Linked DNA regions of Homo sapiens: region 2 is linked to region 1. Evidence: fine-mapped expression QTL. A gene starts in region 1. The other region holds a variant in brackets. All regions are shown on one strand. Distances are from middle to middle. Region 1 holds the start of YIPF6 (Yip1 domain family member 6). Region 2 has its middle 65 kb from the start of YIPF6.

Evidence for each region.
Region 2: its variant is fine-mapped to the expression of YIPF6 in fibroblasts (GTEx, PIP 0.99).

The regions. Positions count from the first base shown.
Region 1 is chrX:68,496,556-68,501,743 of GRCh38, forward strand. It overlaps YIPF6 (Yip1 domain family member 6), which reads left to right and starts at 2,496. Exons shown (of 7, transcript NM_173834.4): 1 at 2,496-2,568. The coding sequence starts at 2,512. RefSeq lists enhancers at 1,662-2,336, 2,135-2,614.
Region 2 is chrX:68,560,978-68,566,192 of GRCh38, forward strand. No RefSeq gene overlaps it. Among named protein-coding and RNA genes, the nearest start is that of YIPF6, 65 kb to the left of the region's middle. The variant G/A (reference allele first, on the strand shown) is at 2,379.

The DNA of each region.
Region 1 (5,188 bases):
CTCAGCCTCTCGAGTATCTGGGACTACAGGCACGCACCACCACACCAGGCTAATTTTTGTATTTTTAGTAGAGACGGGGTTTTGCCATGTTGCCCAGGCTGGTCTCGAACTCCTGAGTTCAGGCAATCTGCCCACCTCGGTCTCCCAAAGTGCTAAGATTACAGGCGTGAGCCACCGCGCCCAGCCAGCTTTTAACATGTGTTTTAAATTTTTCCTTTCAAAATTTTGTTTTAATGAAATTCCCCACTTTGTTTTGAGTCAATTCTGATCATTTTTCTGGGAAATTATTTCCTTAATATTTCCTGGTTATTTTCATAGAGTTGTATGTTATAGTGTCCTGAAATACAGATTAGCCAACAAAGTTCTTCATACCTATTGACTTAAATATTAATTCCACTTCTACCACTTACAAAGGTTCTAAGTAACTTTGGACAAGTCATGCAAGTCCTGCTGTATTGTAAATATCCATGATCTGGCAAACAGTAATGACTGTAGGTGTATTAAAGAACTCTGAGTTAGTCTGGCAATTTTTTGAGATACACTTGCAACTAAAAACATAGAATAATTCCTAGTTTTGGGAGCTTGTTCCTGTGCAGCCCCTTCCTTCACAACCTTCCTTCCTGATTTTCTTTCTACAAAGCATATTGTCTCACACCCAACCAGTACCCTATTAGTTAAATGGGGAGAACAGGCATTGGTAGTCTGAAATAATGCCCAACTAACCTGAGCACTGCCTGCCTCAATTGTCCTATGGCCCGTCCTCTTTTTTTTTTTTTTTTAAGACGGAGTCTCGCTCTTTCGCCCAGGCTGGAGTGCAGTGGCGCGATCTCGGCTCACTGCAAGCTCCGCCTTCCGGGTTCATGCCATTCTCCTGCCTCACCCTCCGAGTAGCTGGGACTACAGGCGCCCGCCACCACGCCCAGCTAATTTTTTGTATTTTTAGTAGAGACGGGGTTTCACCGTGTTAGCCAGGATGGTCTCGATCTCCTGACCTCTTGATCCGCCCGCCTCGGCCTCCCAAAGTGCTGGGATTACAGGCGTGAGCCACCGCGCCCGGCCGGCCTGTCCTCCTCTTAACCTATCACCAAGGCTACCTTGAAATAAGTGGCCAAGAGGGCCAATAGATGAGGTTAGAAGGGGTAGAAGCGAGGGGCTTGTGGCTAGGGAGAAATAGCTAATTTTGGAGGTTGGCAAGGAAATAGCAGACGTTATCAATGGCCTCAGGGAAGTGGGACGGGAGGTAGTGATCTGGTAATCATGGGGTGGGAGGATGAGGTGAGAAGCTCAGGCTGGGGTTGGGACATTTGTACATGATATTCCCTTGCAATTGCAAAAAGATTTCATGTCTACTGGCTTAAATTTTAATATCACTTCCACCAGTATTTGTGCAAGTACTAAAATTGTGCTTGGTCTGAAGGGGAATTATCGTAAACAAAACAAAACAACAAACACCAAAAAAAAAAAAAAAAAACACCTCCATTCGTTTGGAATTTTGTCCCTCCACATTCCACATTCTTCCTCCTTAAATTTACTACTTGGATTGCCTATCCAAAAATATAAAACACTTTTATTTCACAGCCATCCCCTGCCTTGTTGGTTAAATGCTTAACACCACCAAAGGGCACCCAGGTATCCTGGATGCTGATGCTGTCAACAATGGCTGCCCTGTCTGACTACATTTTAGCCTGGGGCCAACGTAAACTGGGACCAGAAATACCTTGAAAGCCCAAAAGGATGAGATAAGGAAAACAGGTTGGGACATGAAGATTATCTTTTAAGTTATTGTCACAATAGTTACTCTCTTTTAGACCCTGAACATTTTCAGTACTTGCTCCAAATGGTTTAGCAACTTTTGAAGTGGGATTAACAAGTTTGGCCAATGAAGCTTCTTCCCTGCCCACCGCCAGAGGTGCTGGAGAAAAGTAATCCTGGAGGGTCGGCGTGGAGGCAGTAGAGAGGTTTATAAAAGTCAAGGAAGTGGGAAGAGGCTTGCGAGCAGCAGGAGAGGCGCAGAGTCAGAGGGGCAGGGGCGGCGGCGGAGGGAGCAGGAGGTTGGGGCTTGAGCCCGTCATTCCGGCGCACGAAAACTTGAAGTCGCTCGGTAGCCGGGGAAGGGAAGGAAGAGAGGCAGGCTCTTTCCTAGAGGTGCCGTGATCGAGGGTCTGGCACTCCAAGCCAACTCCTGAGAACGGGAAATGGGCGGGAGTCGGTGGGGTGGAGAGGGCAGCCGTGGTCGCGAGAGCGAAGGAGCGGTCTGAGAATCCGGCTTGAGTGTTAAAGGCTAAGCGTGTCTAGCTGGACCCGTGGCCCCGAAGAAGCGAGACAAGGCGACGCGGAGCTGTCCCTGACACCCCGAGGACCGAGGGACAGCGAAGGGCCGGGGCCGCCGGCCATTGCCAGGCGCCATTAGGTGACGCGGCCGTCACGCGATGACGCGCTGACCGGCAGTGGCCTCCACGTCGCAGGTTCCGCAAAGACCTGTGGGAGCGACCCGGGAGAAGGAGGGCCAAGATGGCGGAAGCGGAGGAGTCTCCAGGAGACCCGGGGACAGCATCGCCCAGGCCCCTGGTGAGCTTGGGATCTGCGACAAAAGGGACCGAGGGTGAGGCAGAGTGCCCCCTAAAGAAGTCGGGGGACGGGCTCGTGGCCTGAGAGCCGGAGCTCCTTCCGCCCGGCAGGCCCTTCTTGTACCCGATGCCAGAACCAGTCCCAACACTGCACCTGTTCTTTGCGCTAACCGCTTTGCCCCCTGCCCTCGTGGTTCCTTCCAGGTCTTTTTGTGAAACTCCGATCTTTCCTTTCCCATCCTCCCAGGTCTCGTCATCGTCCCCTACATTGTGTTAAATGGCGAACTTTAGGTGATTTCTTAAGTTATCTTTTCTTCTGCTGTCCCCTCATTTTATCAAAACCTGTCACCAGCCTTTGTTGAAGGAATAATGAGAGATTGCTTCCCGTGGGACATTAACGTTTTGTTGCTTATAACTTTAGTATTGACTTGTTCAGTGACCCCAGTAGGCCAGGTTTAACCCCTGTCGCAGCTCCTTGCCATTCTCTTCACCATACTTGTTCTCCTTTCTTATTTTTTACTTTTTTAAAAATCGAGACAAGGTCTCACTCTGTCACCCAGGCTGGAGGGCAGTGGCGCGGTCTCTGCTCACTGCAACCTCTGCCTCCCAGGCTCACGTGATCCTCCCACCTCAGCCTCCCTAGTAGCTAGGACCACAGGTGCGTGTCACCACACCAGGCTAATTTTTAGTATTTTTTTGTAGAGACGGGGTTTTACCATGTTGCCCAGGCTGGTCTCGAATTCCTGGGCTCAAGCTATCCTCCTGCCTCGGCCTTCCAAAGTGTTGGGATTACAGGCGTGAGCCACTGTGCCCGGCCATCTTCACTATACTCTCTTGCTCCTGTCTCTGCAAGGGATAGAATTTCCACTGCAAGCCCAAAGTGTGGACAAGTATTTTAAGAACACAGGCTTTGGAGTTAAACTTTACTTGGGATGGAATCCACCCACTTTGTGAGTTTCGGCAAGTCATTTTAGGGAGGGTGTTTCTTCATCTGTAAAATGGAGATAAAAATACCTGCCTCAAAACAGTTTTTAGAAAGATCAAATGGCATAATTTATGTAACGTGTCTAATACTATCAGTACCATGAACTGAGGAGTATAATGAGGTCAATATTCTGCTCCTGTCCCTCTTCTCAATGTGTTTAGTTATATAGTAGTTGCTCAGTAAATGGTTCTTCCCTTTCCTCTTTTTTTTTCTTTTTCTTTTTTTGAGACGGAGTTTTGCTCTTGTCACCCAGGTTGGAGCACAATGGCACAATCTCAGCTCACTGCAACCTCCACCTCTGGGGTTTAAGTGATTCTCCTGCCTCAGCCTCCTGAGTAGCTGGGATTACAGGCGCCTGCCACTACGTCCAGCTAATTTTTGTATTTTTGTAGAGACGGGCTTTCACCACGTTGGCCAGGCTAGTCTCGAACTCCTGACGTCAGGTGATCTGCCCGCCTCGGCCTCCCAAAGTGCTGGGACACAGGTGTGAGCCACCGTGCCTGGCCCCCTTTCCTCTGTTTTGAATTAGCAACTTAACATAGTGAACTGAGCTGGGAGATCAGTGAACTTAATTCTAGTCCTAGCTCTGCTGCTTACTAGCTCCATTTGTTCACCTCTTCACTCACTCAACAAATATTTATTGAGCATCCGCTACTATGTTCCAGGCACTCCTTTAGGCACTGGGGATATGGCAATAAGAGTGAGTTGTGTTAAGTTCTATCGTGACCTTGAGTAAAATCAGGCTGAACCCCAGTTTCCTCCTTTGGAAAATGGTGATAGGAACACATCACTGAATTAGTGAGAGTACTAAATGAGATAATATATACATTGTGCCTACTGTGACATTGTCATAGGTGCTTAGTAGTTTTTAGTTTCTTTCATTTAAACTTCTCCACCCCTCTTCTGTGAAGCTTTCCCCAGTTAACTTCAGTGGTTCTGATCACTCATTACTCAATATGCAATCCGCTTCCATTCAACAAATGTTTAGTGAACTCCCACAATGAGTAATGCACTGTGCTAGTTGCTGTAGGGAATGCAAAGGGCCTGCCTCTATGGTGCTACCAGTCTTAAGTTTTAGGGATAAGACAAGTATACAATGCTAAAATAAGGCAGTATGTAAGAGAAAGTTACACAAAGAATATTACAGAAATTTAAAGGAAAATGCTATCATGTCCAGTTGGGGTGACCAAGCTACATGGTGGAAGTTATATTTGAAAGGACTTCAAAGGATGGGTAGGATTTGAAATTGCAAGTGAGTATAAGAGCTATCAATAACTGAGCACCTGCTACATGCCAGGTATTGTGCTAGACATCCTCTGCGTATTTGCTACTAAACTTTACAGCAATCATTTCAGTTAGGTGGCTTTTAACTACATTTTATGTGCAGATGAGGATATGACATGCAGGGAGGTTTGATGATTTCCCTAGGGTCTACATCCAGTTAGTGCCATGCATGAAATTTGAACCTAGATCTGACTCTGAAGCCCAGACTTATATATCCATTTATATATAAGTGGATATATCCATTCATATATATATAGAAGCGCAGACTTATATATATCCATTTGTGCTACACAGCCTCTTGTGAACAAAGGCACAGAAGTTGGAAGGTGCTAGTATATTTATAGAACAACAC
Region 2 (5,215 bases), 64 kb after region 1:
TTCAGCTTTCTACATATGGCTAGCCAGTTTTCCCAGCACCATTTATTAAATAGGGAATCCTTTCCCCATTTCTTGTTTTTCTCAGGTTTGTCAAAGATCAGATGGTTGTAGATGTGTGGTGTTATTTCTGAGGCCTCTGTTCTGTTCCATTGGTCTGTATATCTGTGTTGGTACCAGTACCATGCTGTTTTGATTACTGTAGACTTGTAGTATAGTTTGAAGTCAGGTAACGTGATGCCTCCAGCTTTGTTCTTTTTGCTTAGGATTGCCTTGGCAATGAGGGCTCTTTTTTGGTTCCACACGAACTTTAAAGTTGTTTTTTTCCAATTCTGTGAAAAAAGTCATTGGTAGCTAGATGGGGATTGCATTGAATCTCTAAATTACTTTGGGCAGTACGGAACATTTTCATGATATTCATTTTTCCTATCCATGAGCATGGAATATTCTTCCATTTGTTTGTGTCCTCTTTTATTTCATTGAGCAGTGGTTTGTAGTTCTCCTTGAAGAGGTCCTTCACATCCCTTGTAATTGAATTCCTAGGTATTTTATTCTCTTTGTAGCAATTGTGAATGGGAGTTCACTCACGATTTGGCTCTCCGTTTGTCTGTTAATGGTGTATAGGAATGCTTGTGATTTTTGCACATTGATTTTGTATCGTGAGACTGCTGAAGTTGCTTATCAACTTAAGGAGATTATGAGCTGAGATGATGGGGTTTTCTAAATATACAATCATGTCATCTGCAAACAGGGACAATTTGACTTCCTCATTTCCTAATTGAATACCCTTTATTTCTTTCTCTTTCCTGATCGCCCTGGCCAGAACTTCCAACACTATGTTGAATAGGAGTGGTGAGAGAGGGCATCCTTGCCTTGTGCCGGTTTTCAAAGGGAATGCTTTCAGCTTTTGCCCATTCAGTATGATATTGGCTGTGGGTGTGTCATAAATAGCTCTTATTATTTTGAGACACATTCAATCAATACCTAGTTTATTGAGAGTTTTTAGCATGAAGGGTTGTTGAATTTTGTTGAAGGCCTTTTCTGCATCTATTGAGATAATCATGTCGGTTTTGTCATTGATTCTGTTTATGTGATGGATTACGTTTATTGATTTGCATATGTTGAACCAGCCTTGCATCCCAGGGGTGAAGTCGACTTGATCATGGTGGGTAAGCTTTTTGATGTGCTGCTGGATTTGGTTTGTCAGTATTTTATTGAGGATTTTTGCATCAATGTTCATCAGGGATATTGGTCTAAAATTCTCTTTTTTTGTTGTGTCTCTGCCAGGCTTTGGAATCAGAATGATGTTGGCCTCATAAAATGAGTTAGGGAAGATTCCCTCTTTTTCTATTGATTGGAATAGTTTCAGAAGGAATATTACCAACTCCTCTTTGTACCTCTGGTAGAATTCAGCTGTGAATCCATCTGGTCCTGGACTTTTTTTGGTTGGTAAGCTATTAATTATTGCCTCAGTTTCAGAGCCTGTTATTGGTCTATTCAGAGATTCAACTTCTTTCTGGTTTAGTCTTGAGAGGGTGTATAAGTCGAGGAATTTATCCATCTCTTCTAGATTTTCTAGTTTATTTGCGTAGAGGTGTTTGTAGTATTCTCTGATGGTAGTTTGTATTTCTGTGGGATCGGTGGTGATATCCCCTTTATTATTTTTTATTGCATCTATTTGATACTTCTCTCTTTTCTTCTTTATTAGTCTTGCCAGCAGTCTATCAATTTTGTTGATCTTTTCAAAAAACCGGCTCCTGGATTCATTGATTTTTTGAAGAGTTTTTTGTGTCTCTATCTCTTTCAGTTCTGCTCTGATCTTAGTTATTTCTTGCCTTCTGCTAGCTTTTGAATGTGTTTGCTCTTGCTTCTCTAGTTCTTTTAATTGTGATGTTATGGTGTCAATTTTAGATCTTTCCTGCTTTCTCTTGTGGGCATTTAGTGCTATAAATTTCCCCCTACACAATGCATTAAATGTGTCCCAAAGATTCTGCTACGTTGCATCTTTGTTCTCATTGGTTTCAAAGAACATCTTTATTTCTGCCTTCATTTCGTTATGTACCCAGTAGTCATTCAGGAGCAAGTTGTTCAGTTTCCATGTAGTTGTGCAGTTTTGCGTGAGTTTTTTAATCCTGAGTTCTAATTTGATTGCACTGTGGTCTGAGAGATAGTTTGTTGTGATTTCTGTTCTTTTACATTTGCTGAGGAGTGCTTTACTTCCAATTATGTGGTCAATTTTAGAATAAGTGCAATGTGGTGCTGAGAAGAATGTATATTCTGTTGATTTGGGGTGGAGAGTTCTGTAGATGTCTATTAGGTCTACTTGTTGCAGAGCTGAGTTCGAGTCCTGGATATCTTTTAACGTTCTGTCTCGTTGATCC[G/A]TCTAATATTGACAGTGGGGTGTTAAAGTCTTGCATTATTATTGTGTGGGAGTCTAAGTCTCTTTGTACGTCTCTAAGGAGTTGCTTTGTGAATCTGGGTACTCCTGTATTGGGTGCATATATATTTAGGATAGTCAGCTCTTCTTGTTGAATTGATGCCTTTACCATTATGTAATGGCCTTCTTTGTCCCTTTTGATCTTTGTTGGTTTAAAGTCTGTTCTATCAGAGACTAGGATTGCAACCCCTGCTTTTTTTTTTTTTTTTTTTTGCTTTCCATTTGCTTGGTAGATCTTCCTCCTTGCCTTTTTTTGGAGCCTATGTGTGTCTTATGTGTGTCTTTGCACGTGAGATGGGTCTCCTGAATACAGCACACTGACGGGTCTTGATTCTTTATCCAATTTGCCAGTCTGTGTCTTTTAATTGAGGCATTTAGCCCATTTACATTTAGGGTTAATATTGTTATGTGTGAATTTGATCCTGTCATTATGATGTTAGCTGGTTATTTTGCCCATTAATTGATGCAGTTTATTCATAGCATCAATAGTCTTTACAATTTGGCATGTTTTTGCAGTGGCTGGTACTGGTTGTTTCTTTCCATGTTTAGTGCTTCCTTTGGGGGCTTTTGTAAGGCAGGCCTGGTGGTGACAAAATCTCTCAGCATTTGCTTGTCTGTAAAGGATTTTATTTCTCCTTTAGTTATGAAGCTTAGTTTGGCTGGATATGAAATTCTGGGTTGAAAATTCTTTTCTTTAAAAAGTTGAATATTGGCCCCCACTCTCTTCTGGCTTGTAGGGTTTCTGCCGAGAGATCTGTTGTTAGTCTGATGGGCTTCCCTTTGGGGGTAACCCGACCTTTCTCTCTAGCTGCCCTTAACACTTTTTCCTTTATTTCAACCTTGGTGAATCGGACAATTATGTGTCTTTGGGTTGCTCTTCTCAAAGAGTATATTTGTGTTGTTCTCTGTGTTTCCTGAATTTGAATGTTGGCCTGCCTTACTAGGTTGGGAAAGTTCTCCTGGATAATATCCTGAAGAGTGTTTTCCAACTTGGTTACATTCTCCCCATCACTTTCAGGTACACCAATAAAATGCAAATTTGGTCTTTTCACATAGTCCTGTATTTCTTGGAGGCTTTTTTTGTTTCTTTGTACTCTTTTTTCTCTAACCTTGTCTTCTCACTTTATTTCATTAATTTGTTGTTCAATCACTGATAACCTTTCTTCCACTTGATTGGATTGGCTACTGAAGCTTGTGCATTCATCATGAAGTTCTCGTGCCATGGTTTTCAGCTCCATCAGGTCATTTAAGGTCTTATGTACACTGTTTACTCTAGTTAGCCATTCGTCTAATCTTTTTTCAAGGTTTTTTTAGCTTTCTTGCGATGGGTTCGAACATCCTCTTTTAGCTCAGGGGTCTGGCGAATCATGCCCTACAAATCATAAATTCTCATCTGATGGGTTTTATTTAACCCTATATATCATGACTTACTTTCCTATATGACTCTGGCATAACATTACATGACAAAGAAGAAAGTCAAAATATTCTACTTTGCCATATTTTGAAATGGTCCTTTGTGGGGGAAAATGTGCATTTGTAAAGAATCTATGAACATAGCTAGATCTTTTTCTTCCAGCCCCTCCCAATCCTGAAGAGATTAAGTAAGAGTCTAGTGCCTTTTAACGGTCCAAATAGGAAATCTTTGTCATCTACTGTCTCTAAGGGCAGCCACTATAAGACTACAAAAGAACCTTGGTCTCCACAATCTTTTATGTTAGCCTAAACATTTCCTTTCTATTGATCCAGGTATTTAGACAAACTCAACCAATTGTCAATCTGAAAACGTTTAAATTTACCTATAGCCTGGAAACCCCGTGCTTTGAGTTGTTCCACCTTTCTGAACCAAACCAATGTATTTCTTTCTTTTCTTTTCTTTTTTTTTTTTTTGGAGACAGAGTCTCACTCTGTTACCCAGGCTGGAGTCCAGTGGTGCGATCTTGGCTCACTGCAACCTCTGCCTCCCGGGTTCAAGTGATTATCCTGCCTCAGTCTCCTGAGTAGCTGGGATTACAGGCACTCACCATCTCACCTGGCTAATTTTTGTATTTCTACTAGAGATGGGTTTTCACCATGTTGGCCAGGTTGGTCTCGAACTCCTGTCCTCAGGTGATCCACCTGCCTCAGCCTCCCAAAGTGCTAGGATTACAGGCATGAGCCACTGCGTCTGGCCCAAACCAATGTATTTCTTAAATGTATTTGATTGATGTCTCATGCCTCCCTAAAATGTATGAAACCAAGCTTCACCCCAACCACCCTAAGCACATGTTCTCAGGACCTCCTGAAAGCTGTATCACAAGCCATTGTCTCTCGTATTTGGCTCAGAATAAATCTCTTCAAATATTTTAGAGTTTGACTCTTTTTATTGACACACTACAATAGCATCCAAACTTTTTTGATGACTAAAATACTTTGAACACTCACTCTTGATATCTATTTTTAATCCATTATACATGTTCACATATATGAAACATAAACAAAAATATAATTTTTAAAACATACAGTATAAAATTAAATATAAACAGTTATATTTTCTTCCCCATATATTTTTTTATTTTCAGTAGGTTTTTGGGGAACAGGTGATGTTTGGTTACATGAATATGTTTTTTGGTGGTGATTTCTGAAATTTTGGTGCACCCATCACTCAAGCAGAGTACAATGTACCCAATGTGTAGTCTTTTATGCCTCATCCCCCTCACCCTTTCCCCCGAGTCCCCAAAGTCCATTGTATCATTCTAATGCCTTTGTGTCATCACAGCTTATCTCCTCCTATGACTGAGAACA